4 linked regions of the Homo sapiens genome follow. The protein of the gene in region 4 interacts with the protein of the main gene of each other region in a pairwise test. Each region holds a gene or a part of one and is shown on either strand. Other genes may lie near its edges. The genes, in order: TRIM68, CEP72, TMEM239 and LNX1.

Region 1 (7,035 bases), on a different chromosome or scaffold from region 4:
TTTAACCTTACGAGTCTTCTAACAAGTAATCAGAGTACCCAAACAGGCTTATAAATGTAAAAAACAATCAAACCAACCAAAAAGAGTACATTACAAATGAGGCCATTTCATTCCTTCCTTCATTCTAAGTTCGAATGAATTTATCAGCTAACAATCCTCCGTTTCTAGGAACCTTCCAAGATTTGTCTTAATAGCCAAAGAACAACATTGATTTTCCCTTAACCCTTTTGTCCCAATTGTCCACAGACAGAACTGAAGTCCTTCCTAGGGACCTACTTCTCAGTTACCCCCAGGGAATCCCCTGACAAAGATGCTCCTCTAATTGAGGCAGGCTCAACCCTTGGCCAGCACCAGGGTCTGTGCCTCACTAGCTCATTCCCCTCCAGGCAGCTGATGGAAACTTCTCCCCTTCTACTACTGATTCTCAAGAAGCAGTCTGGAAGCATGGTGGACAGAATGCGTTTATTTCTCCAGTTTGGCCTATTTTAACTCCTACATACATGAACAGCCAATACAATTAAAGTAGAAACACAATTTTTAATATTCCTTATCACAGCCATTTGAAGCTCCTTTCTGCCCAAAAGGTCTAGACTGCCAGCAGAGGCCCTGAGACAAAGGCACTGCTATAAGATGCAGACTGTATCATGGCACAGTGGGAAAGTCACCATGTGCAAAATCCACGGCTTGCCTGCCTCTATGCCTCAGACAGGAACAAATCATGGGATGGATCTGGGATCTATACAACAGCTCCATGAGGCAGGACAATCATATGAGGTTTTATGCTGAATTACACCCATTTTCCCAATGAGGACACATAAAACCTCCCAAACATGTGAGAAGTTTCAGACCCAAATATAATAAGTGATGTATAGGCATGTGACCTGCGAAGTGAGTTTGTCAACCTTGTTTCACTTGAGTGTGAAAAATGCTTTATAATTTTGATAATCTTACCTTCAGCAGCTTTGTAAGAAATAACTTGCTCCAGGGGCCGGGCGCAGTGGCTCATGCCTCTAATCCCAGCACTGTGGGAGGCTGAGGAGGGCGGATCATGAGGTCAGGAGATCGAGACCATCCTAGCTAACATGGTGAAACTCCGTCTCTACTAAAAATACAAAAAAATGAGCCAGGCGTCGTGGTGGGCGCCTGTAGTCCCAGCTACTCGGGAAGCTGAGGCAGGAGAATGGCGTGAACCCAGGAGGCAGAGCCTGCAGTGAGCCGAGATCGTGCCACTGCACTCCAGCCTGGGCAACAGAGTGAGACTCCGTGTCAAAAAAAAAGAAATAACTTGCTCCCTTAAGGCCATTTCAGTTTCCTCATTCATAAAGTGAAAATACAAACTAAAGCTCGCAGGTTTTCTGATCCTGCCACTTAGAGAAAAAAGGCAAGACTAGGACACTGGTCTCCTGGAGTCCAAGGGACAGTGATTTGCCCAGCTTGTGCTCAGAGAGGGAACGGCAGTGGGGTGGCTTGGGCAGGTCTGTGTCCCCCTGCTGCACTGAATTTCTCTTGCCAGGAGGTCAGAAGGTGAGAGTCACATAAAGGTTGCTTAGTTATAGCAAACCTCAGGGGAAGCATCCTCTGACTGGCCTCAGCACAACAACCAGCTCTGGGTATGCGCAGCATTTTTTTGGCCTATTGGGAAAGCCCATCTAATGGTGTCCTGAAGACTGTATCTACTTCATCATCCTCACTGACTGAACTGTGACACCGGACGGGAATCAGGGAAGAGGGTGGTTGGCTACTACATGGACAAAGTCCTGATCCTTACCCCAACGAGTCACCTTAGAACTGCTCTGATCCTCACCATCAGCCCTGTCGTGCTTCCCTCATGGGATGCAATGCTCATTTGACTGGGCCTCTGCTTTTTAAAATAAGTGGTTTCATGACAGACTTCAGCCTGGTAGCAAAGACCAAAGGATCAGACAGAGGAATCCTTGGATACTGGGCTCAGCTCAGTTTCAGGGGATACCTGTCAGTGGCTCGGTCCTCCAAGCCCCATGGGGGCCAGGCCCAATTCCAAGCCTCTCTGGTTAGGGTGGTAGCTTTCTTAGTCCTCCCCATCCAGGGAGCAGATGGCCAGAGGAGCAGTGTTGTTGGTTCCAATGCTGTAGCAAGGACTAAAATAGGGCAGGAGGCGCCCAGGGAAGGGATAGCGGGGGAAAGTGAAGATGTGGGAGCCACAGTCAGTCACATTGTAGAAAGAAATGTCATGGGCCTCATAATCCACGAAGATTCCCACCCGGCGAGGAGGGACCGGCAAGGACAGGATTGGGTACTCATCGGTGCCTGCTCGGTACTCATTTCCCTTCCTCAGCCTTATCACCCAGAATCCATAGTGGGGGGATAAGTAGACCACCTCCTTCCGGTCTACATTTTGCTTACATACTCCCAGGCCCCACTCAGACCTGTCTCCCACCTCCACCTCCCAGTAGTGCCGGCCTGAGGAGATGCACTGGCTTCCCAGGACGATATTATAGCGGTAAAATCTCTCAGGATTGTCTGGCAGTTTCTGGTTGGTGTCTCCATAGTGCACACGTTTTCTGTCCTCAGACACGATGAGACGGGAGTAAGCAGTATCTGGATCCAAGCGCACATCAGCTAGAAGAAAAGGTCCTGGTTGGTAACAGTGATATAGGGCCAGGGGACATGGGTGAGAGCCCTCTGATAAATTCAGCCACAGATTTCTCAATGATGAAGGGGTGAGGCTGGATGGAGCACCCAGAGGGCACTGAACCATTTTCTATCTCTGGGAGGGGTCCCTCCCACTGTCCACTACAGTCTCCCCCAGGATCCATTACCTGCATAAGTCTTCAGGATCTCTCTTAGCCCCAGCACACGGCAATCTGTCTTCAACTCCAGGGAGATTGGTTCTGGCTGCTGCAAGCTCCAAGATTTGCTCCTGGTAGAGGAGGGTGAACCTCAGGGCCAGGAGTCCCGGCTTTGTCACATGGGCCTTATCTTAGTACAGGGAAGAGGGGCTTGGCCAGGGACATAGTGAACCCCAGCAAAGCAGAGACATGATGGTTACGGTTATTTGGCTGAGCCTCAAGCTGTTTGTGTGCAGAGGTGAGAACACCTGCATGCCCATGCTATGGGAAGGGTTGGATGTATATTTGATTCTGGGAGAGGAAGAAGTGCACACATTTTCTGTCGGACATGAAGGAGTCATGGGCAGTCTTTTATCCTCTTTGAGCAATCTACTTGAAACCACATATTTTACAGCTTCACTTGATATACATTTGATCAAGTACAAAGAAGAAAAAGGAAAGATCAACAAAGATTCCTTAGCCATTACCATGTAAGTGGGACGAGACTGTGGACCAGCACCTGCTTTTCTGTGTGCACCGAGTCTGTGCTCCGTCCCTACTTCTGGCTCTAGTTAGGCCTCACTATCCCCTACAGGGCTGCTTAGAGGCTCCAAGGGTGAGAACATACCTGTTTAACACTTCCTGAATATCCTGGAAGGAGAAAAAAAAATGCAGCATCTGAGTAAGTGCTATTCCTCAGAGGGAACAGACATCGAACTGGCAGGGAGTTTCTCTAGGGGAAGGGAGACAGATACCAAGAATGGAGAGATGCCATGCAGAGGTAAGGAGAAGCCTATGGAAGGATGGAAGAGCAGGCTGAGCTTTGGCTGAACTGGCCAATTTCAGGCTCCATCTCAAGACTCTCGGGCTAGAGGAGAGGGCCTGGAATGACGCCAGAGCTGCCTGAGCACTGCCCCACCTATGATGCTACAACAGACCAGGTCATCCACCAGCCAGGGATAGGGAAACAGCAGGTATTAGCTGGGGAAACACAGGATCCATGACCAGCTGGCAGAGGGCTGGCAGTCCCTACTGAAGGGTAACTGATGCTCTCTCCTGGAGTCTCAGTCTATCTTCAGCTGTCACTCAGGGTTACCAGGAAAACCTACTACTCACCTGCAACATCCAGCGGACAGGCCTCTGCGACCTCTCTTTCAACTCTGCAATCATCCTCCACAGGACCTGGCTCTGCTGGATGAGCTCGCTATGGTTCAACTCCAGTTTCTGCATGGTCTCCGCTGCCTCCCGCTGTAGGCTGGCCAGAGCTGCTGCTACCTCTGCCCCCAGCTGCCGATGTGGTGGCTGCTTTTTCTCTAGTAATCGCTGGTATTTTTCAAACTCCCATACAATACTCTGTTTTCGGGTTTCCACCTGTATCTGTGGAGCCAAGATGGAAATCAGCACTGATACTTTCAGTCACCCAGTATCGAGCATACTGACATATGCATACACACATACTCTGCAATGGTACCAACCACGTGACAGGCTATGCAGGGGCAAAGATAAAGGATACTATTTTTCCTAGCTTCCTGTTCTCCCAGCTCCACCACATGCTTCTAGGTCTCTATTGTCACTCTTATTGACTCCAGTAGGGTCCAGGATATTATCTTAATACTACATGCTCTAGACTATTTTCCATTTTCAGAATAATGACAAGATGTGTTACATTTAAGTCTCTAAGGCAGTGTAACTTAACTACACTGTTAGGTGGTTCATTTTCATGTTGATATTATATCTGTTCAACATGCTGTTTTAGATTGGTTCAGTGTTACTTTCTGTTGATCAAAAGTTCTAGTAGTTTGATACTTACTGGCCTCAAATTTATTTCAGAGGTGATTTTACAATATTTTAATAACCAGACTCTTAGCAAATATTCTCTAACTTGGGAAAATGAAAGAGAAACTCTGCTTTACAAGCATGATATAAGCCATGCCACTGTGAGCTGACACACGTGAGCATGTGCTTTTCCTTTCTCATATAGGAGGATACAAGACCAGAGGTTATCCCTACATCCCCATGGAGAAACTGGAATTAAGAGGTGACGTGGCCTACCTAAGGCCTGGGACAGAGAAAGCAGGGATTAGAACCCTAGGCTCTGTGATTTCAAGCCTCACATTCTGCCTCACAGTGATGAGAATGCTACCCTAGGCCAGCTCCAGGACCACACAGGACGACTGACACAAACTCCTTTCCCCACGAGGCAACCTGCCTTCCAGGTGGCAGTTCGTTTCCTTTCACCAACTTCAAGCTTCCAGGCCTCTTCTTGCTCTTTCTTCAGATGTTCGAGGGCCTCATGAAGTTCCCACTGCAAGAGACAAAACCCTCATGAGGCCACCTCCGGCAGCCTAGGCTTCCTAGCACTGGGAGGCTATGGGAGAACCAGAGTCCTTCAGGCAACCGGCCACAGTGAAGGCTGTGGGGAAAGGGAATGCCACAGAGGAAGCAGACTCTGCCCAGATGACATCCGAGGTAGCTCTCTGGGCTGAGAATCATTTCAACTCCCACAGTCTCTAAATGTCTGTAAACTGGAAGAAAAGGTCCATTTACAACCTCTCCACAAAAGTACCTTGGACTTTCCTTTCCATGCCAATTTTTATCCTTATCTTATTTATTTTTATCTTACTGTCTGCCAGAACCTTGTTACTCCAAATGTGGTTCAAGTGGATCAGCAGCATCCACATCACCTAGGAGCTTGTTAGAAATGCAGAATCTTGGCCTTACTTTAGACCTACCAAATGAGAATCTCAATTTTAGATGGATCTCCCAGGTGGTTCATATGCTTATTAAGGGTAAGAAGCACTTTCCTAGAATAGTAATGCAAGGGATTTCTACTGAAAAGCATAAACTGTGCAGAAACACCATTTAATTCTGCTATTTTAACAAAATAGCAACTATTTTGTTAAAATATATCAAGTGTCAGGTATATTTTCAGCTCTAAATATGCATGTGATACTTACAATCCTCTGAGGCTGGTATTAACCTTATTTTATAGACAAGAAAACTGAGGCTTAGAGGGTGACCTACCCAAAGTCATTCAGGTAATAAATGGTTGGGCTGGGATTTCATCCAGCCCTTTACCCCTATGTTATACTAGCTCCCTTTTCTAATAGTCTCAAAAACAGAATGAGTTAGTAAATACTTTTCATATTTTAGAAATCCCTCCCATATAGGAAAAAAGCTAATTCAGGGGATTTGTCTTACACTCTCACCTTCCTATTTCAACTCCAAAAAAGAGAGTTGAGACCAATGCTGGATCACTGGATCACAGAATCACTGAGATAATGGTTCCGATAAAGATGTCATTATGGGCATCTGATGAAAGAGTAAAGAGAAGCCCAGAAGCTGGAAGTTGATGAGGTTAGCTACAAAAAAGGAGTCCCAGGTTTGTCAGAGATGACTTGTCAAACAAACAAACTTGGGAGAGGAGAAAGTGCAAGAAGACTTGAGTCACAGCCTCTGATCTTCCTTTCACTAACTGGACCTGAAGTCAGAAAGGACCTGAGAAGACTATATCAGATGACCTCTCTCAATCTTGTGACTCACCCATAGTTCTTTCCACCTCTAAAATAAATTGCCATGTTTTCAACTTTCTAAGCCTCACTTTTGTCTATAAAATGAAGGAGGGAAGTGATCCATTCAATGCCAAATGACTACTTGCAGCACTGCTAGGAGGAGTTTGCAGGTCAGGTGTAGCCTTGACCATCTATATAAGAGCCTCATGCCTAAACTCATCCAAGGCATCCAGAATCTCAGTTAAAACCCAAACTGTTTTCCTTCACATTCTCATTACTGAAATCAGCCTTGGGTTAGGAATTGAGCCCTGTTAGGATGTAGGTGTAGAGGAAGTGGGAGAGCAGGAAATCAAGGAAGGTCATGAATACAAGGAAAGGTATAGCTCTCTGTATCAGATTCCAGGGATCTCTGGGTGTCAGGAACCAAAGGAGTTAGCTCTCAGTCTGTGGTGCTGGTGGTCAAGCCCTTGATCTAGAAACAGCCAACTTGGGGCCGGGGTTAGACTGGAGTGGCCAGCTTCCATCTCTCACCTTGTACTCCCAGGCAACATCCTCCATTGGCACAACACTGTGGGCCTCATGCTCTGGGGACTGGCTGCAGGCCTCACACATTATCAAGACATCCTCTTTGCAGAACATCTTCAGCTTTTCCCCATGGCGCTCACACAGGTCACCCTTCAGCCCCATTCCTGGATGTAGCCTTAGCAGACGGACTT
Region 2 (7,035 bases), on a different chromosome or scaffold from region 4:
TGCTGCAGTGGCGCCAACCAGCATGACCTGCCCTCCGCGCGGGGCTTTGGGTCGTCCAGAAAGCTCCTGGCAGTGCCACGTCTCATGGTTTTGCCTCCCAAGGATGCGGTGAGCTCTTAAGGCAGGGCTGTGAGCTCCCAGCTCTTTTTCATTTGTTTCTTTGAGGCAAAGTCTCCCTCTGTCGCACAAACTAGAGGGCAGTGGAGCAATCACAGCTCACTGCAGCCCCCAACTCCTGAGCCTCCTGCCTCTACCTCCCAAAATAGCTGGGATGACAGGAGTGTGCCACCACACCTAATTTTTTATTTTTTGGAGTCTAGGCCACGACAGGTGCAGGGAACAGAGGACCGACTGCACCCAAGCTGGGCGCAGCCCATCTGCCTCAGAGGCCGTGCCAGGCACAGCAGCTGGAAGTGGGGCCACCTTGCCTCAGGACACCCGACTGCAGCTTCCAAAGGAAGCAAGGTCTAGGTTCATGTGACCGAGGGATGAGCGTCCTCACGTGGCAGAGTAAACTTGGGTGCTTCTGGAGTGACAGATGTGGGCCTCCCTGGAAAGCAGTGCCCACCAGCCTGCACGGCTGCTCCCTCCGCGGGGTTCCTGACGGTGCTGACTGCTCCTTACCCGCGGGGCTCGGGCTGCCAGATTCTTCTGGATCACTCACCCTGACAGGGAACCAGGGCTGCTCTGTCCAGAGGCCCAGGGCTGCCTGCAAACTGCAGGGGTTAGGCAAACTGCAGAGGGCAAAAAAGCAGGCGTCCACGGCAGCCACAGCTGCATGTGACTCTCACCCCTGGCAGCACTGGTGCTCGGCACACCTTTGGGCTCCGCCTGTCAGCTCTGTCTCGTCCCAGGCTCAGAAGGGCAAGGGGTGTGCCTGACTGTGTCCCACAGAAAAGACATCATCAGTGACGGCGCCCAGCTCACTTTCCAGACAGCCGGTCACGTGTGTTTCAGTATAAAGGCTTCCAGACGGGGGGCCACACGTGTTTAAATATAGAGGCTTCCAGAGAAGGGGCCATGTGTGCTTAAATCCAGAGGCTTCCACCAGATGAGGGGCCATGTGTGTTTAAATACAGAGGCTTCCAGAGGAGGGGCCACGTTGGTTTAAAAGCAGAGGCTTCTGGACGGGGGACCACGTGTGCTTAAATGCAGAGGCTTCTAGATGGGGGACCACGTGTGTTTAAATGCAGAGGCTTCTAGACGGGGGACCACGTGTGTTCAAATGCAGAGGCTTCTGGACGGGGGACCACGTGTGTTTAAATGCACAGGCTTCTGGACGGGGGACCACGTGTGCTTAAATGCAGAGGCTTCTAGACGGGGGACCACGTGTGTTTAAATGCACAGGCTTCTAGACGGGGGACCACGTGTGCTTAAATGCACAGGCTTCTAGACGGGGGACCACGTGTGTTCAAATGCAGAGGCTTCTGGACGGGGGACCACGTGTGTTTAAATGCACAGGCTTCTGGACGGGGGACCACGTGTGTTTAAATGCACAGGCTTCTGGACGGGGGACCACGTGTGCTTAAATGCAGAGGCTTCTGGACCGGGGACCACGTGTGCTTAAATGCACAGGCTTCTAGACGGGGGACCACGTGTGCTTAAATGCACAGGCTTCTGGATGGGGGATGGGGGGCCATGTGTGTTTAAATGCAGAGACTTCTGGACGGGGGATGGGGACCCACGTGTGTTTAAATACAGAGGCTTCCAGATGGAGGAGGCCCACATGTGTTTAAATACAGAGGCTTCCAGATGAAGGCCACGTGCAGAGGCTTCCAGGCGGGGTGGGGGGGCCACGTGCGTTTAAACAGAGGCTGCCTGTGTTGTTTTGCTGTGTTTTTCTTCTCTAAAGAGGAAGCGTTGTGTGGGATCTCTGAGATGTTGGTTCCCATGAAACGGACAGTATGTACTTGTCAGACAAGTTCAGAGGCAGTTTTCGAAGCCGTCCCGGGCCGACTTCACTCGCAATTTAAAGATGCTGACAAGGCCCCTCTGGATGTGCACATCCTCACGTGGCTCTGCCCTCACACCAGGACTCCCGGAGGGCGGCTTCTGCCTGGGTGTGGCTCTCTGACCACCAGCTCCCTGTGCTAAGGATGCCAGCAGCCCGTGGGGAGGCCCTTGCAGCGTGGAGGGAGCCTGGGAGGATCCTGTCCCGTGAGGCCTCAGATGAGACGGTGGCCCCAGCCCACGGCTGAGACAGAGCCCCCATGAGGCCTCAGATGAGACGGCGGCCCCGGCCCACGGCTGAGACGGAAGGAGGGAGCCTGGCTGAGCTGAGCCTGAGGCCCAATACACAGAAATCCAAGGTGATAAATGCAGGTTTTCAGCTGCTGGTTTTGGGGTAACTTGCCCTGTAGCCCCAGCTCACCATGGGACACTGGCCGTCATCTCCTTCATAAAAGGAGAGTGGCCTCGGTTTTCCCCAGTTCGAGGCCCTGAGAGATGGGTCAGCAAGACAAAGTCACGTCCAGGCCTGGCTCCTGCAGCACCCGGCACTGCCCAGTGGTGGAGGGTCCCTTGGGCCCGGGGAGAGAAGGTGGCCAGCGCCACTGCTGTCTCCAAAGTGCTCCAGGCCTGTTGTGAGACAGGGCAGGCCGCGTTCCGGGGGTGGCCGGGTCCCGGGCAGGGAGTGGAGACATGGGGCTGCAGAGATGGCAGTTGGGACAGTGTGGCATCAAGGAGCTGCCCTCGTTCCTGGAAGTCAGAGCCATGTTTCCCCCAGTCACATGGACACAGACACAGCGCCAGGGCGGGCTCACCAGCTCCTTGTGTGTGTGGTGCAGCTCCGCCGTCACCTCGCTCATCTCCCGGGCGTGCTGCTGCTGCTGCTCAGCAAGGCGGCTTTGCAGGGACTTACTCTCCAGAGCCAGGGAGCCGACATCTTCACCCACCATCGCAGAGCTGTCCTGAGCTGCTGTGAATTCTTCAACAGATGACAAGATGTGTCTTGCCTGAGCTAGGAGTGAAAACCAAATATTACATTAGCACTTAGGCTTAAAGGATGAAATGTAAACAAAATCGGCTCAGTATGTTTTGAATCACACAGACGATGCCTCAAAAAGACGACAGGTAGGGAGAGGGGAAAGGGGTGTTGGCGCCACAAAACCACCTCAGGCTCTGTGCGTCCACACACGGGCAGGGTGGGAACTGAAGAAAGAGAAGAGGTGACCTCCAAGAAAAGGGGCAACCAGGGGCCGCCACGTCTCAAGGTTTCAGTGGCGCCGCCACAACTCGCTGCGCCTTCCACAAGCACCGACTGCCCTGTGTGGAAACCACCATGCAGACGACAGCTGGCAACTCCACACTGGGACAGTGGCCTGGGCCTGGGACAGTCCCCCCGCCACCGACGATGGCAAGCTCAGGAGGCTCCCACAGGACACCAGCCTAGGGAGAGGGGAGGTTTATGGGGCTGGGGTCCAGGTGGGCTGCGACTGCAGGGCGTCCTCATTCTAGGAGCTGAGGGGCTATAACACTGCAAGGCGCAGTCAGACAGCTCAGAGCCGTGCCCAGGGTCTGCGGGGAGAAGCACACTGGCTAGGCTCCTGAGGGACACACACAGCCACACCCCAGGATGCAGGACAAAGAGAAGGTGCCCCTGGGGACGCGGCATCTCCTGGTCTCCCAGTGTGATCCTGGATGAGGGAGGCCCCAGTGTGCTCATGTACGGGTTGCCTGGTAGAATCCAACAGACCCAAGTCCTCTCTGGGGAGGGACCACCCTCCTGGGTCCCACACCAACCAAAAGCTCTGCAATCCAGGCCCAGCACAGGCTACACGTCTGGGTCGGGGGAGAAGATGCTGAGCAGCTTCCAAACTCCAAATCCCCATGTGATCACAGCCATCAGAACCAAGCCCCTTTGGACAGCATTTTGAGCAAAATGAGGTGACAGGCCCCCCAACACCCCAGAGCACAGCGGGGGACCCACAGGCCCAGGCCCATGTGGTGTCTCCCGAGAGCCCTGGACACTGTGAGATGCAAAGACTGCCAGGGAGGGCCCAGGCGCGGGACCACCACACGCTCGTGGGAGGGGACATAGGAGACCTGGGGCTGAGATGACTCCTAGGTCACCACACGCAGAGGACCCCGGAACCCACACAGACGCTGCCTACAGGGCAAGAGCAGTGGCCGCCCTGACTCACCAAGGAATGCCTCGTTGCTGTGCAGGGACCTGCAGCCGCCCCAGCTCCTGTCCACCAGGTCCAAGAGCGTCTCCAGGAGCGCCGCCTGCAGGGCCGTCTTCTTCCCGGGTAGAGCCGAGTGTGACCCGGGAGACGGCTGTGATGGAAACAACAGCATGAGGCCAGCGAGTCAGTAACTGAGGTCCTGAATGCCAGCAGGTGCCCAAGCGCACCCTGGGATGCCCTCGCACCACGAAGGGGAGGACAGGTGCCCTGAGGCCCCAGCCCTGAGCCAGGTGGAGGGCGGCTCAGCAGTGCCTGCCCAGTGAGGCTTAGCCAGGTGCACCGGTCCTGGATGAGTGAGGTCTCGATGACAGGACAGGACGGGGCCCACACATTCCCAACTCAAGCAGGCCCCAGACTCCTCCCCTCAACCCAGACAGGGAAGCGGAAGACACATCCAGGCCGCAGTCAGAGCCTGTGTTCAAAAGGAGCTGCCCAGGAAGCAGCCTGCACCCACAGTCAGGCTGGTAGAGGGTGCCAGGCGCTGTCCCCAGCAATGGCCCGGAGTCAAACAATAACCCTGAAACAGACCGCCCACCTCCCCCATCTCTGCCTCCTTCCAGCTCAGGACCTGCCGGGGACGTCAAACACGCCCCACCCAGCTCTGGGACCCCCCCCCACCCCATGCTGCTACGGAGCTGCCTCTAGCTCCGGCCATGCCTCCCTTCCTGTCCCACAGTTCCGCACCTTCAAGCTCCTCTGCCTGCATGGGAGTCTGAAGCCCTCGTTGTGGCAAGTACCAAGTGAACAGCCCCTGCCTGTTCCCTTCTGGGTGGTCTGCACTCATGTCTACAGCAGGTGTGTCTCAACGCCTCTGACTGGGCCTGCGCCAGTTGTCCCCCTGACCTCTAGGTCACCCTGAGGGTGGAGTGACTCGGTCTCTCATCACAGCGACCTCCAGGATCCTCCCCTCACGAAAGGGTCATCAATGGCTCAGCCGGCCAAGATGCCCGATTCCAGCTTTGGAGACAAATGCCCTGTGCACCGTAAGGCAGAGTCCCCTCTCTCCACCACGGGGCTTCCACTCAGAACAGCAGCGCAGGACAGCGTGTGGCACAGAGGCACACGTCCAACAAAACGCAGCAGCAAGCACCCTGGAACCCTAAGTGTGATGATTCCCTTTATCCTGGGACACGGTCAGTGCCGTAGGCGTAATCACGGCACCGCCAAAGCCGTAACAGCCCCGCATCAGGGAGGGACACGGTCAGTGCCGTAGGCGTAATCACGGCACCGCCGTAACAGCCCTGCATCAGGGAGGGACACAGTCAGTGCCGCAGGCGTAATCACGGCCCCGCCAAAGCCGTAACAGCCCCACATTAGGGAGGCAGTGCCGTGGGCCTGCTGCTCCCCAGCCCTTCTCTCACCTCTCTGGTGTCGGTCACACCCCGAGACCTCTGCTCCTCAGTCTCCGAGGCCTCAGGCTGAGACAAGGTCCTCCCGTTCCTGCTTTCTGAGCTGTCCTGTCTGCTCAGGCTCTCCTTGGGCACGGAGGACCCATGAGTTCTCTCCGGGCAGCCCAAACCCTCCTGGTCCGAAAACGTCTGGAATCTTCCAACAGGCATTCTTCGCTTCCTGCACTTTCCGGGGGCTGGCAGGGGACCAGGCACCATTTCTCCTGACAAATCCAACTTCTGAGAAGAGGCCGAGTCCTCGGTATCCATGGAGTCTGAGATATAGAGAGGATGGGGCGCACGTCAGGCCAAATTCTCTGGGTGCAGTGTTCAGCACTGTAACTTTTAAAAGGCATGTGTGTGCCCATGTATATACACACATGGACACACACGCACACTTACATATGTACACGCACACCTATCCACGTGCATACATACATCCATACACCTGCACAAAGGCACATGCAGAGGGAGGGTGCCGAGGGAAGAAAGGGGCATACTGGGGCACACGTGCTAACACGCAAACTCTGGGGGAGTCTGGATGAAGCAGACACGGACCGCCCAGCTTCGCGTGTTCACCCCGTGATGACCGACGTGCAGTACGCTTCAACAACGCGTTCCAAACAACGTCTAAGCACACGCCCATCTCTGAAGACAGGTGAAGTGACAGACTCTGATGGTCCGTAAAGTGGTGGGTCCCGTGCACTGTACCGACCACTAAGCCCCCAGGACACACAAGACCCGGGGGAAGGCAAACTTGTCTGTGGAAGGACAATGAAGGCAGGAGAAGGCACAAAACGGGCACAGCCTTGGCCTCCACCACAGCCTGCTCAACTCAAGATGACCCATCACATCCTGCAGCGGCTGACAGACAACCTGGCTAGGTCCCCTGCCTCTCACCAGTTGGGCATGAGCAAGCTTCCAGGAGGCGCCAGGGTCACGCGAGACAAGGTTTCTCTTTTTCTTTTTTTTTTTTTTTTTTGAGTTGGAGTCTTGCTCTATTGCCCAGGCTGGAGTGTAGTGATGCCATCTAGGCTCATTGCAACCTCCACCTCCCAGGTTCAAGCGATTCTCATGCCTCAGCCTCCTGAGTAGCTGGGACTATAGGTGCCCGCCACCATGCCCAGATATTTTTGTATATTTAGTAGAGACCTGGTTTCACCATGTTGGCCAGGCTGGTCTTAAACTCCTGACCTCAAATGATCCGCCTGCCTCGGCCTCCCAAAATATTGGGATTATAGGCGTGAGCCACCGTGTCTGGCCTGCTCACGGCAGGAGGTTTTCTGATACTTATGCCACATAGGTGGCCATCACATGGTATCACGTGACACTCTTGGTTAACTTTTCTCGCCTTTGATTTTCAAAATGTAGCTATTGCCATAACCTGGGCCCATACACTTAAAAGTGTGTGTGCATTAGTGAGAGGGTGAGGGAGGGTGTGCACACACACACGTGCAGAG
Region 3 (7,145 bases), on a different chromosome or scaffold from region 4:
AACAGAAAGGAAGGACTGGACCTTGGGTTTTGGCACTGATGCTGAAGGCATCTAATCCGTGGCATGGAGGGTTGCAAAAGTCTAAGGCAAAAATGAACCAGGGTTCTAGGGGCTAGCCCCAAGGCCCTGAGTATTTATGGGACAAAAGAGGGGGACCTTGGGTCTGGGGCTTCAAGAGCAAGGATTTTAGGGTTATACATAAAGCAGGGATCAGAACTGGGCAGGAGTTGGGGATGGCCAGGGCTTGGGTGGGGGTCAGGTGTGGATAAAGTTGTCTATCATGTACCTTACTTGGTAATTACCGATCACTCAATGTTTTGTTGGAGGGGCCAGCAAGTGAACGAACGGCCAGCATTCAGGGCATCAAAGGATTGCCCTTTCCAAAGCCCTTCTGGTGCCTGAGCGGCTTGCTGGGTCAGTTTTGGAAACCCTGGGGCTGTGCTGTCCCCACTCACACAGCTGTGCAAGCATCTGGCACCCAGCCCCAGGCCCAAGCATTTCATAATCAAAATAGTTCAACATCTGCACATTTTGAGATTTCATGGCACATGACCTTTTACATCTTGTACACACTTAACCGACCTCTTGTTTACCATTTTAGGGCCAAAATTCTATCCAGGACAGAGAGTTGATCTGAAAGCCCAGAGAAGCTTCCTGTTCCTTCAACAGTCTTTGGGGTCAAAAGATCTTATGCGCCTACAGAAAGTTCTTAGAGCTCAAAACAACATCTTACAGGTTTTTGGCTTCTACAAAATGCTTCACAAATAGATATTGTCTTTGACTCACAACAACCCCATGACAGAAGTGGCCCACGTAACATTGAGGCTCAAATGAATTAATTGGCCAAGGCCACACATTGTGTAAGTGGGTGAAATGGGATTTCTTGATCATTTTTCCATAACAGACCTTGGGATTCTTAGAGAGTGAGTAGGTGCTGTCTGACCCCAGTTGGCCCATTTCTCAGACTTGGGGATGCAGACTGAGGCAGGAAGTAGGAAGTCTAGGGAGGAGGATGCGTGGGCTGCAAGGTTTGGAGAGCGAGTGAGTTGAGGTCTCCTGGGGCTTCTGGCCAGCCTTCTCCCTGATAGATTTTTGTCACTGGGACCCTCTCTAGAGTCTGTGGTTCTCCTGGAAGTGGAAAGAGGGGATTGGTGGGAGGAATGGCAAGGCCAGTGGTACCCAGGTAGAAGTTCTCAGTGAGTCTGAAGCTGAGACAGCTGAGTGGCTATGAGAAAAAGATGCTGTCAGTTGCCAAGGGGGCCCCACGGGTATCATCACATCCATATGGGCGCTATCAGTGGCTTGGTCAAGCTCTGCCCCTGGCTAAGCAATTTTCACCAATGGCTAAGCCATCTGTCTTGCCCCCTCTTCTCAAAGCCCCCAGCCCCTCACACCAGGAACCTGCAGCATTGACTTGAGGAAGGAGTCCGGGGTCAGGCCAGTCTACCTGTTAGGGACTAGGGGTCTGGGCCCTGCCAAGGCAGGGAGCCCTGATCCCATTGCCCTCCCTCTCCCCGTGGGGTCTCAGGCCCTAGGCCAGGGCTCAACAGACACAGGCAGTGGGATGGGGTTGCCCTTCTATTGATCCAAATCCTGAGTGTCGCCTGGGTGAGTCATGGAGGTGAGGAGGCCCACAAGGCTCAGCAGTGTGGAGAAGAGCAGCAGGAAGGAGGCCGTGAAGAGGAGGGCAGGCAGAGCACTGAGCACCAGCAGCAGGAGAGCCGGTAGCAGGTGGCGCCACACCGCGGCCACGACAGGCCACAAGGAGCTCAGCAGGTGGGAGCCAGTGGTGAAGAGTGCATGGCACAACATCAGTGCCAGCAGCAGGTAGAGTATCCCCTCCAGACCCCACAGCAGGCGCTGCAGCGGTTGCCGCCAGTTCGAGGTGCTCCACCACTGGATCCAGCTCGGGGGCATGTGGCTCACCCACCAGCGCACCCAGCCATGCCTCGTGACCCAGGCTGACCAGGGCACTGCCTGCTGTGGCCCCTCGCCAGCCCCGATGGTATCTGTCTCCACTCGCGGCTGCTGCATCATGTCTGGTGCACCTGGGGAGAGGGCCAGGGTCTTGAAGATGCCTGGGACCTTGGGGGGGGGGGGCAGAGAGGGGGTGCAGGGGTCAGGAGGGCACCAGTGTGCGTGGGGTGGGGCTACAGAATTAGGGACTGGGACTTACCTCTGGGCAGTTACCTAAGTCATGTTGCTTCCTGCAGCGCCCAGGACGGCCTGGCAGGCAGATCCAAGTCCCCACTCTCATCTACCCCCACCCTCCCCAGAGGAGCCCCTTTGTGACCCGGGCTGGGGTGGGGTCCAGCCAAGAGAGGAGTCACTGTAGGGTGTGAGGCCCACCCAAGTCCCTCTGCACGGACCCTCCAGGCTGGCAGGGGAGCCTCGGAGCCCCGCAGATGTAGTTTCTCATGCTTTCTCATGGGAAGCCCTCCCTGGATCCCTGTCCCTTTCCTGCTTTCCCTGCTGGCTGATATCCACCCCTTTCCAAACTGCTCTCTCGCAAGTCTTTCTGTCTGGACCTTCATTCTCTAGAGCCACAGAGGAGGCCAGAGTGGCTGCCCCCAATCCACAGGCTCTGAGGTGGCTGCCACATTCTTCCTTGGGCTCCCTGGCTAGTATCCTACCTTCTCTTGCTGCCCAAAGACTCAGATCCAGGTATCTGATACCTATATTATAGGACTGTGAGGTTCAGGCTGGGAAGAAAGGGGTATCATCCCACCTGCCCAGCCAGGAAGGAGAAAAGGGGGCCTGATGAAGAAGGGTGGTCATTGTATATTTGAAGGACACTGAGTTGTGGGGAGGGGCTCTCAGGCCCAAGGATGGAGGCAGAAAGCCAGGCCAAGCAGGGTCAAGGGCATGCCACAGGCTCTCAGGAGCGGGCCCAGCCCCATGAGCAGCAGCAGCAGTGCGTCCTGGAGGCTAAGTTGTCCTGAGACTGTACCCATTTGCAGGAGTAGAGCCTCCTGCTGTCCAGGACCTTCACCGGCCCCCTGACTCTGGCCCCTGGTGAGAAGTTTGCGCTGTGGCAGAGTGTGACCTGCGGGCCTGTGGAGAGAGAGGGTGGTGACTGGGCTTAGGGAAGTTGTCCACTGGCCCGCCCGCCTACAATGCCCACCTGCCAGGCTGCTGCCCACTTACCTATGGAGCAGGTCAAAGGTGAGGAAGCTGACCAGAAGCAGCAGCAGGGCTGGGCCAGTGGTGGAAAAGACTGCCTGGATTGTCAGTCCTAGTGCCCCCAGCCATAGGACACTGTCCAGGAGCTGGGCCCAGCTAGGGCCCCAGGTGGATACAGGTGGACGCACTGGACTACCTGACCCCTCCCCAGCACCCAGGCCCCTTGGAGGAACTGGGATCGGATCCTCACGTGCTTCGGGTCTGGGTAAGCAGAGCCGGGTCATGGAGAGAGGTGGAGGTGACGGGAAGACCTAGTGCTGAAAAGGATTATAAGGGTGAGAGTAGGGGAAGGGGTAGGGCCCGGGCAGACAGAAGGGTGAGCTCAGAGTGGGGAATTAGGCTCCTGCAGAGTCTCCCCCTCCCCCATACCCACCCAGCAAACCCTCCTCACCTCCTCCCACTTTGGTCAGCATTCTGGGAGTGGGCACCCGGGGCATTGTGACCTGTTACCACGTGGGGCCGTGGGGTAGGGAGGGGGCTGCTGCTGCTGCTGCTCTGACCTCATAAGCAGCTGGTGGCCTAGGTGGGGCTTAGCTGGGAAGTCAGGGATTTCTGAGAACTAAGACTCATCCTCTTGCCTTTGCTGATTCTCTGCCCTAGGGCCCTCCCTTGGGGATCTGAGTTGTCAGGAAGGCATTCTAACCCCATTACTACTTGGGCATCTGTCCAAGGGAGCGAGGTCTGCTTTCTTCTTCCTGTGAGTTTGCAGAGCTGCAGGTCCAGGGCGAAGTCATTCAATATCTCTGTCCCCAGCTGTCTTCCCTGTGGGTCCTTCTAGGGGATTTTTCAGGCCTGAAGTTCCAGATTGCAGAGATGGGCTCTGCCAGGGGACTGCCTGAGGCTTCTGGGGCTGGGCTTCCGCATAACCTGCTAAATGGGGGTGAGAGAGGAGGGGGCTGTTCAGGTATTCTAAGCACTACAGTTTATAGGGGGTGTTATGCATACTGGGGTTCCAGTAATGAGGTAGAGGACATGAACTTAAGAGGACTATGACCTAGTAACCCCCTTATTAGAGGTTAAGGTTACAGTCTGAGAATGGAGTTAAGGAAAATGAACATATAATGAAGGGCTTAGTCACTTGGATTATCAGTATATCAGATTACACTGATCATCTGTAAATGGGTGGTGGCCATAGGGGTCCAGCACATCTCAGTTTAGTGACTTGAGAGGCAAGAGCGGAAATGTGTCATAATTAAGAGAACTTAATCTTTGCCCACATATCATACTTTGAAGGAAAACTGGTAGGGGTGGCAAAATGGGAGACAGTGGCCATACAGCCCCTAGGAGAGGAGGAGACAGAACAAGAATCAGGCTGCATATCCACCTCCAGCAGGCCTTGCCCAGAGACGAGGGTCACCAGCCCTAATGACCATGCACTGATCGCCCTTGGTCTGGCTGTTCTTGCTTATCCAGCAGCTGGGTTTTACGAGTAGATTTGTCCGTAATGGGATAGGGTATAACAGAAGATCCCAGAATTTTTTTTTTTTTGGCATTAAGTTCCAATTGTGCTTGTAAAGGAACATTAAGGTTTAAGATTGGCAATTCCCTGAGCCTGATCAATCCTGGATGCATCCACACAATTGCATTCCTGGACATACAGACCTGGGGAGCATGTCCTGATGAGTCCACCAAGATGAGGCTACTCCATATTGCAGGGCATGGGGGGATCGGAGAGTCTAAAGCTCCTTAAAGATTTACTATGCACCAGGTGCTCTGTATGCATGTATAGGAGAGTTCTGTCTGTGATTTTCTCAGAGTTTATTTTGTATTCAACAATCATTTATTTAAGTGCTTCCTATGTGCCAGGCACTGCACCAGATGGTGGGTGTATTAGGCCATTCTTGCGTTGCTATGAAGAAATACCTGAGACTGGGTAATTTATAAGAAAAGAGGCTTAATTGGCTTGCAGTTTTGCAGGCTGTACAGGAAGTAGGGTACCAGCATCTGCTTTTGGGGAGACCTCAGGAAACTTCCAATCATGGCAGAAGGCAAAGGGTGAAGAGCAAGGGAGAGAGTGGTGGTTAGGGGAGTTGCCACACACTTAAACAACCAGATCTTGAGAGAACTCACTCACTATTTCAAGGACAGCACCAAGCCATGAAATATCCACCCCCATGACCCAAACACCTCCCATCAGGCCCTACCTCCAACATTGGGATTTGAGATTTCAACTTGAGATTTGGACAAATATTCAGACTATATCAATGGGTCATAATTTCTAAAAGTAGAGCCTGAGATGGGGATACTTGTACACATGGTTTATTGAGGGAGTGCTCTGAGGAGGAAAACCTTTCTTTCTATTTTTTTTTTTTTTTTTTTTTGAGACAGAGTTTCGCTCTTGTTGCCCAGGCTGGAGTGCAATGGCGCCATCTTGGCTCACTGCAACCTCCGCCTCCCGGGTTTAAGTGATTCTCCTGCTTCAGCCTCCCAAGTAACTGAGATTACAGGCACCCACCACCACACCCAGCTAATTTTTGTATTTTTAGTAGAGACAGGGTTTCACCATGTCGGCCAGGCTGGTCTCAAACTCCTGACCTCAGGTGATGTGACCGCCTCAGCCTCCCAAAGTGCTGGGATTACAGGTGTGAGCCACCCTGCCCGACCAGAAGGGAAAGATTTTTAAAAATCAAGAGACTCTTCAGAATTGAAGGACATGATTCTCTAGACCATAACTTTCCACCAATTCACAGCCCAATACATGAAACAGGGCAGCTAACATCAAGGCATATAATGAAATTCACATTAGCAGGGATAAAAAGACAATCCTAAGAGCTTCCACCAAATAAAAACATCACATACATCGGATCTGAAGCAAGAATGGTATCACACTTCTAAACACCAATACTGGTAGCTAGAAGACAATAAATGCCCTCAAAATGATGTCTAATATAGAAATGTATAGGTCTGAATGATTATTAATTGGGAGGGTAGAATAATGACATTTCAATCATACAAGGTCTCAGAAATTTGACCTTGCATATACCCTTTCTTAGAAAGCTACTGGAGGATGTGCTTCAGCAAAACAAAGAATTAAACTAAGAAAGAGAGCAATATGGCATTCAATAAATGAGATTAAGCACAGAAAAGGGACGATGAGAAAGGCCTGGGATGTCAACTATACCCCCGGGTAAAGAAAGTAACCAACCCAGCCTGAAATCAGAAGATGTGCTCTAGGAGCGATGTCTCCAGAGGAAAATGAAATCAACTGATTATTAGCTATGTTTGGCTATATTGAGTAAATGTTCAGTTACACTGGAAGCTTTGCGATTGAATTAATGAGTGATGCCTAGAAAACTAAGCAAATGATAAAAACAAAGTAATTACTAACTCCAGGTAGCACAAATTTAAACATAATATTTACATAGTCATAACAAAAGCACTGAATATTGATTCCAAATAGCAATTGAGCTTTACTGAAAATGGAAGGAGGGAGTGTATGTTTGTGTATCTGGATGTGTGTATTGAGGGGAGGGTGGTAGAAAAACTAACGCCTTAATTTCATAGCAGAAATCCACAGATAACAACTACATAAAGAAAAATCAAGAAATGCACAGTGACTCACACCTGTAATCCCAGAACTTTGGGAGGCTGAGGTGGGCAGATCACTTGAGGCCAGGAGTTCAAGACCAGCCTGGCCAACATGGTAAAACCCCATCTCTACTAAAAATACAAAAATTAACTGAGCATGGTGGCAGGCACCTGTAATCCCAGCTACTTGAGTGGCTGAGGCACGAGGATCACTTGAGCCTGGGAGGCAGAGGTTGCAGTGAGCCTCAGCTCACTGCACTCCAGCCTGGACAGCAGAGCAAGAAATTGTCTTTTAAAAAAAAGAAGAAGAAGGAGAAAAGAAAAGAAAAAAGAAAAAAAAGGAAATAGCAAGAAATCTAAGCATAGAGATAAAGACAGGAGAAATAACAAAAAGAACTAAAAGTGCTTGGCTTGGGAAAGGCATAGAGCCGACT
Region 4 (3,721 bases):
CTGATTTTTGGCAACATGAAAATGCCAATTTCCTTTCAAACCAATTCCCGGACTACAGCTACAAATGTGGTCAACAACGTCATCCTGGAGTAAAATTCAGCTCCTGACACACACTTCTATGGCAATTATAACATAGTTAACACTTGGCCTGTACCTATATGAACACTGATCCATTGGGGGCCACTGAATAAAAATTTCTTCAATCTCATTTGCTATTTTAGTTGAGGATTCTAATTTACAGAAGAGCTGGGCCTTTCCTTCTCCCATTCCTTTTATAACTTCCTATCCAGTTTCCTGCAGTTTGTTTTTCCTCCTATTTGAATTGTTCTTATAATCTTTAAACGTTTCTGTTTCCATTCACTTTATGCGTGCATGCTTCTCTATGACTTATCAAACGTAGCACTGGGTGTAAAGTGGTATTTTTCCAAGGTCAAAAAAAGTATACGAATTCATTTATTAGGATTAGGCTTAAACTGCTTTCATTGAGATTATTCAAAGGATTTTTGCCCTCATTAAAATTATATCAAGTAAATAAAAATATGACATCCATAAGTGTGTTTGTTCACCAATAAGGATTTAGGTTTATCCAACTTTTTGCTAATACATATTCAAGCATTGTCTTAAGTTAAAAATATGATTATCATTCCCAGTAGATGTGTAACAGAACACAATAGGGCTGTCAGTTTTTTAAGGATATTCAAAATTATGGAAAACAGGTTCAATTACAAAAAGCCAGCTAACAGCACAAAGGTCACCAAGGTATGATACAATTTTGAGTGGGACCTATGCAGTGGTACTTAGCCATTAAAAATGCCAACAAAAGGAATGGAGGATGAGTCACAGTAAGTATTCCCTTAACTGTGAAACTTAAATATGCATGTACACTGATTACATTCTATTTCAGGTGCTTGTATAACTGTAAAGATATTGTATTACGAAGAAACACAGCTGGAAGTCTGGGCTTCTGCATTGTAGGAGGTTATGAAGAATACAATGGAAACAAACCTTTTTTCATCAAATCCATTGTTGAAGGAACACCAGCATACAATGATGGAAGAATTAGGTAATAATAATGACTAATCAAAAATACTTGTATTAAATGTTGTTTCATAAATGCCAAAGCTTGGCCCCATTTGAGATAAGGCATGTATTTATTATACTTTGTGGGGATTAAAAGTATGTACGTAGCATTCAACTTCTGAGAAATCCAAAATAATTACACATATTCTTGGTCCCATACTACAACTCCCCATACTTTTAGCATTCCTTCTAACACAAGCTGAATGGATAGTGAGTTTGGAGAATGTAAATAAGAGGCAAGAAATATCTCAATTAGAAGTTAACATAATTAAAATGGTCAGATGTAGCAAAATCTAGCACCACTAAGATAAACTTGCATTAACTTCAGCAACGAATTAAAATACTAATCATATCTTGTTTTGTTTTTTTTTTTAGATGTGGTGATATTCTTCTTGCTGTCAATGGTAGAAGTACATCAGGAATGATACATGCTTGCTTGGCAAGACTGCTGAAAGAACTTAAAGGAAGAATTACTCTAACTATTGTTTCTTGGCCTGGCACTTTTTTATAGAATCAATGATGGGTCAGAGGAAAACAGAAAAATCACAAATAGGCTAAGAAGTTGAAACACTATATTTATCTTGTCAGTTTTTATATTTAAAGAAAGAATACATTGTAAAAATGTCAGGAAAAGTATGATCATCTAATGAAAGCCAGTTACACCTCAGAAAATATGATTCCAAAAAAATTAAAACTACTAGTTTTTTTTCAGTGTGGAGGATTTCTCATTACTCTACAACATTGTTTATATTTTTTCTATTCAATAAAAAGCCCTAAAACAACTAAAATGATTTGTATACCCCACTGAATTCAAGCTGATTTAAATTTAAAATTTGGTATATGCTGAAGTCTGCCAAGGGTACATTATGGCCATTTTTAATTTACAGCTAAAATATTTTTTAAAATGCATTGCTGAGAAACGTTGCTTTCATCAAACAAGAATAAATATTTTTCAGAAGTTATAGTTGTCTTTTAGTATGTGATACTAATTAAGATTACTTTTGTATTATCACTATTTAAAAGATCCTAGTAATTTATTCTTTCAAATACCATGTTATTTGTTACCATCACCGATGAATACCTCCTAGGCTTATCCCTAAAAATGCTCGCTCAGAGAATTAATTATAAACTTGTTTTGTTTTTAGTAAGAAATGGCTAAAGCTCTTTTTTTCCACAATCGTTAGTAACTGTATAAAAACTCATGCTGCTCCACCAGTGGGCCTTGGAAAATGCATCAAGAAGGCCAAACCAGCTTGACCCTGGCTCACAGACATGGTCATGAGGCGATTTAAATTTGTGCCACAATGAAGAGTGTGTGTACACATGCCTCCTAGAAACTACACTATGGGTAATTAATTAATTTATTTCATAGAGGCCACCCAGATGCCTTATAGGTTTTATTAATTTGGATATGAAAGTGTACCCCATTTGGTTTCACCAGGAACCCAAATTTAGAATATTGAAAAGCCATCAAAAAGTTGTGATATCAAAAATGTATGAGTCTCTTAATATACTAAGCAAGAGTGTCACAGCAGTAATGATAAAGACTAGTTTTAATCTCAAGCCTTAGAGGGGCCCTTTGTTGCCTTTTGTGATGCAGCCTCTTAAGAGAGTGGTGTTTGATTAACAAAAAAACTGTGGCCCAAGTGGAACCCTTGACCTTTTCTCAGATAATCTGTGTATGTACACAGCTAACACAGCTCTTTAGATTCCCTGTTAAGTGACTCATTCACATTCCTTTCTTGGATATAAAGTCATTGCTGTCTTTTTATTTTTGAAATAGTACAAGACAAAGATTTTTAACTTAACATGAAAAATTCACTCTTTTATTTTGGAAAAAAAGTTAACTTTTCATACTAACAAACAGAACAAGATTTAAGGTAAATTTCTTAAACATTATCCAGAAAAATAACAAGATTTATAGTATCTACTTCTGGTACTAATATACACAAAAGGCCAAAACCATGCCTATTCTGCAGGTGTAGCTTCGGTGCTCTCCTGTTCAGGGGCAGGCTCACTGCCCGCTTCTTTTCCTTCTTTGCTTCTTTTAGATTTTTTGTGTTTGTGTCTCCTGTGACTATCTCCTTCTTCACTTTCATGGCGACGTCTACTATTACTGGAAAAAAAAAAAAAAAAAAAAGGTGTGTTCTGTTTAAATACACAATCAGTGACAAAAATCCAATCACTCTAAGGAAATTCTCAATATAACACTGGGTTTAAAATAATCTAATGCATTTTCTCATAAATATAATGTGAGGAATAATCAGTTTTATGTGACTTTTATGCAGGGATTGTATTTATTTTATAGGGCCATCTTCACTGATATTATCTCAGATTCCCAGTGCCTATACACAGCTTCTGAAATGCATATTATAATATACAGTAACAAATTAGAAACAGGCATTAACTCAAAACCGGAAATACTGTATAGGGTTGATTTTTGGCAAACAATAGGTATTTTGTTTAATGCTTTTTTAAAAAAATTTGAGACAAGGCCCTGAATTTTTCTTTAATGAAACCAAGCAAGACTGGTTCATAGGCCAAAATTTCCCCTCTTCCAATGCGACAATGTAGTAAGTCAAAATCTCTCACATACTATTGGTTCACTATTTTATTAAAGAGCAAACCTTCGAGAAGACTT

Evidence for each region.
Region 1: the proteins of LNX1 (region 4) and TRIM68 interact in binary tests that used the Homo sapiens proteins (3 or more experiments, as listed by UniProt).
Region 2: the proteins of LNX1 (region 4) and CEP72 interact in binary tests that used the Homo sapiens proteins (3 or more experiments, as listed by UniProt).
Region 3: the proteins of LNX1 (region 4) and TMEM239 interact in binary tests that used the Homo sapiens proteins (3 or more experiments, as listed by UniProt).

Annotation. Positions count from the first base shown.
Region 1 is NC_000011.10:4,598,229-4,605,263, forward strand, and holds the end of TRIM68 (E3 ubiquitin-protein ligase TRIM68), read right to left. Parts: coding exon 6,851-7,035; intron 5,113-6,850; coding exon 5,017-5,112; intron 4,185-5,016; coding exon 3,924-4,184; intron 3,459-3,923; coding exon 3,436-3,458; intron 2,900-3,435; coding exon 2,799-2,899; intron 2,599-2,798; coding exon 2,048-2,598; 3' UTR 444-2,047; downstream 1-443. UniProt on the Homo sapiens protein: Functions as a ubiquitin E3 ligase. Acts as a coactivator of androgen receptor (AR) depending on its ubiquitin ligase activity.
Region 2 is NC_000005.10:636,332-643,366, reverse strand, and holds part of CEP72 (centrosomal protein of 72 kDa), read right to left. Parts: intron 5,851-7,035; coding exon 5,549-5,850; intron 4,279-5,548; coding exon 4,143-4,278; intron 2,960-4,142; coding exon 2,763-2,959; intron 1-2,762. UniProt on the Homo sapiens protein: Involved in the recruitment of key centrosomal proteins to the centrosome.
Region 3 is NC_000020.11:2,811,447-2,818,591, reverse strand, and holds TMEM239 (transmembrane protein 239), read right to left. Parts: upstream 2,177-7,145; intron 2,086-2,176; coding exon of another isoform or gene 2,038-2,085; coding exon 1,579-2,037; 3' UTR 530-1,578; downstream 1-529. Other genes in the region: uncharacterized protein C20orf141, read right to left, coding at 2,817-3,054, 3,148-3,407.
Region 4 is NC_000004.12:53,458,777-53,462,497, reverse strand, and holds the end of LNX1 (E3 ubiquitin-protein ligase LNX), read left to right. Parts: intron 1-904; coding exon 905-1,063; coding exon of another isoform or gene 1,064-1,067; exon of another isoform or gene 1,068-1,455; coding exon 1,456-1,591; 3' UTR 1,592-2,969; coding exon of another isoform or gene 2,970-3,196; 3' UTR 3,197-3,197; downstream 3,198-3,721. Other genes in the region: FIP1L1 (pre-mRNA 3'-end-processing factor FIP1), read right to left, coding at 3,049-3,196, 3,708-3,721.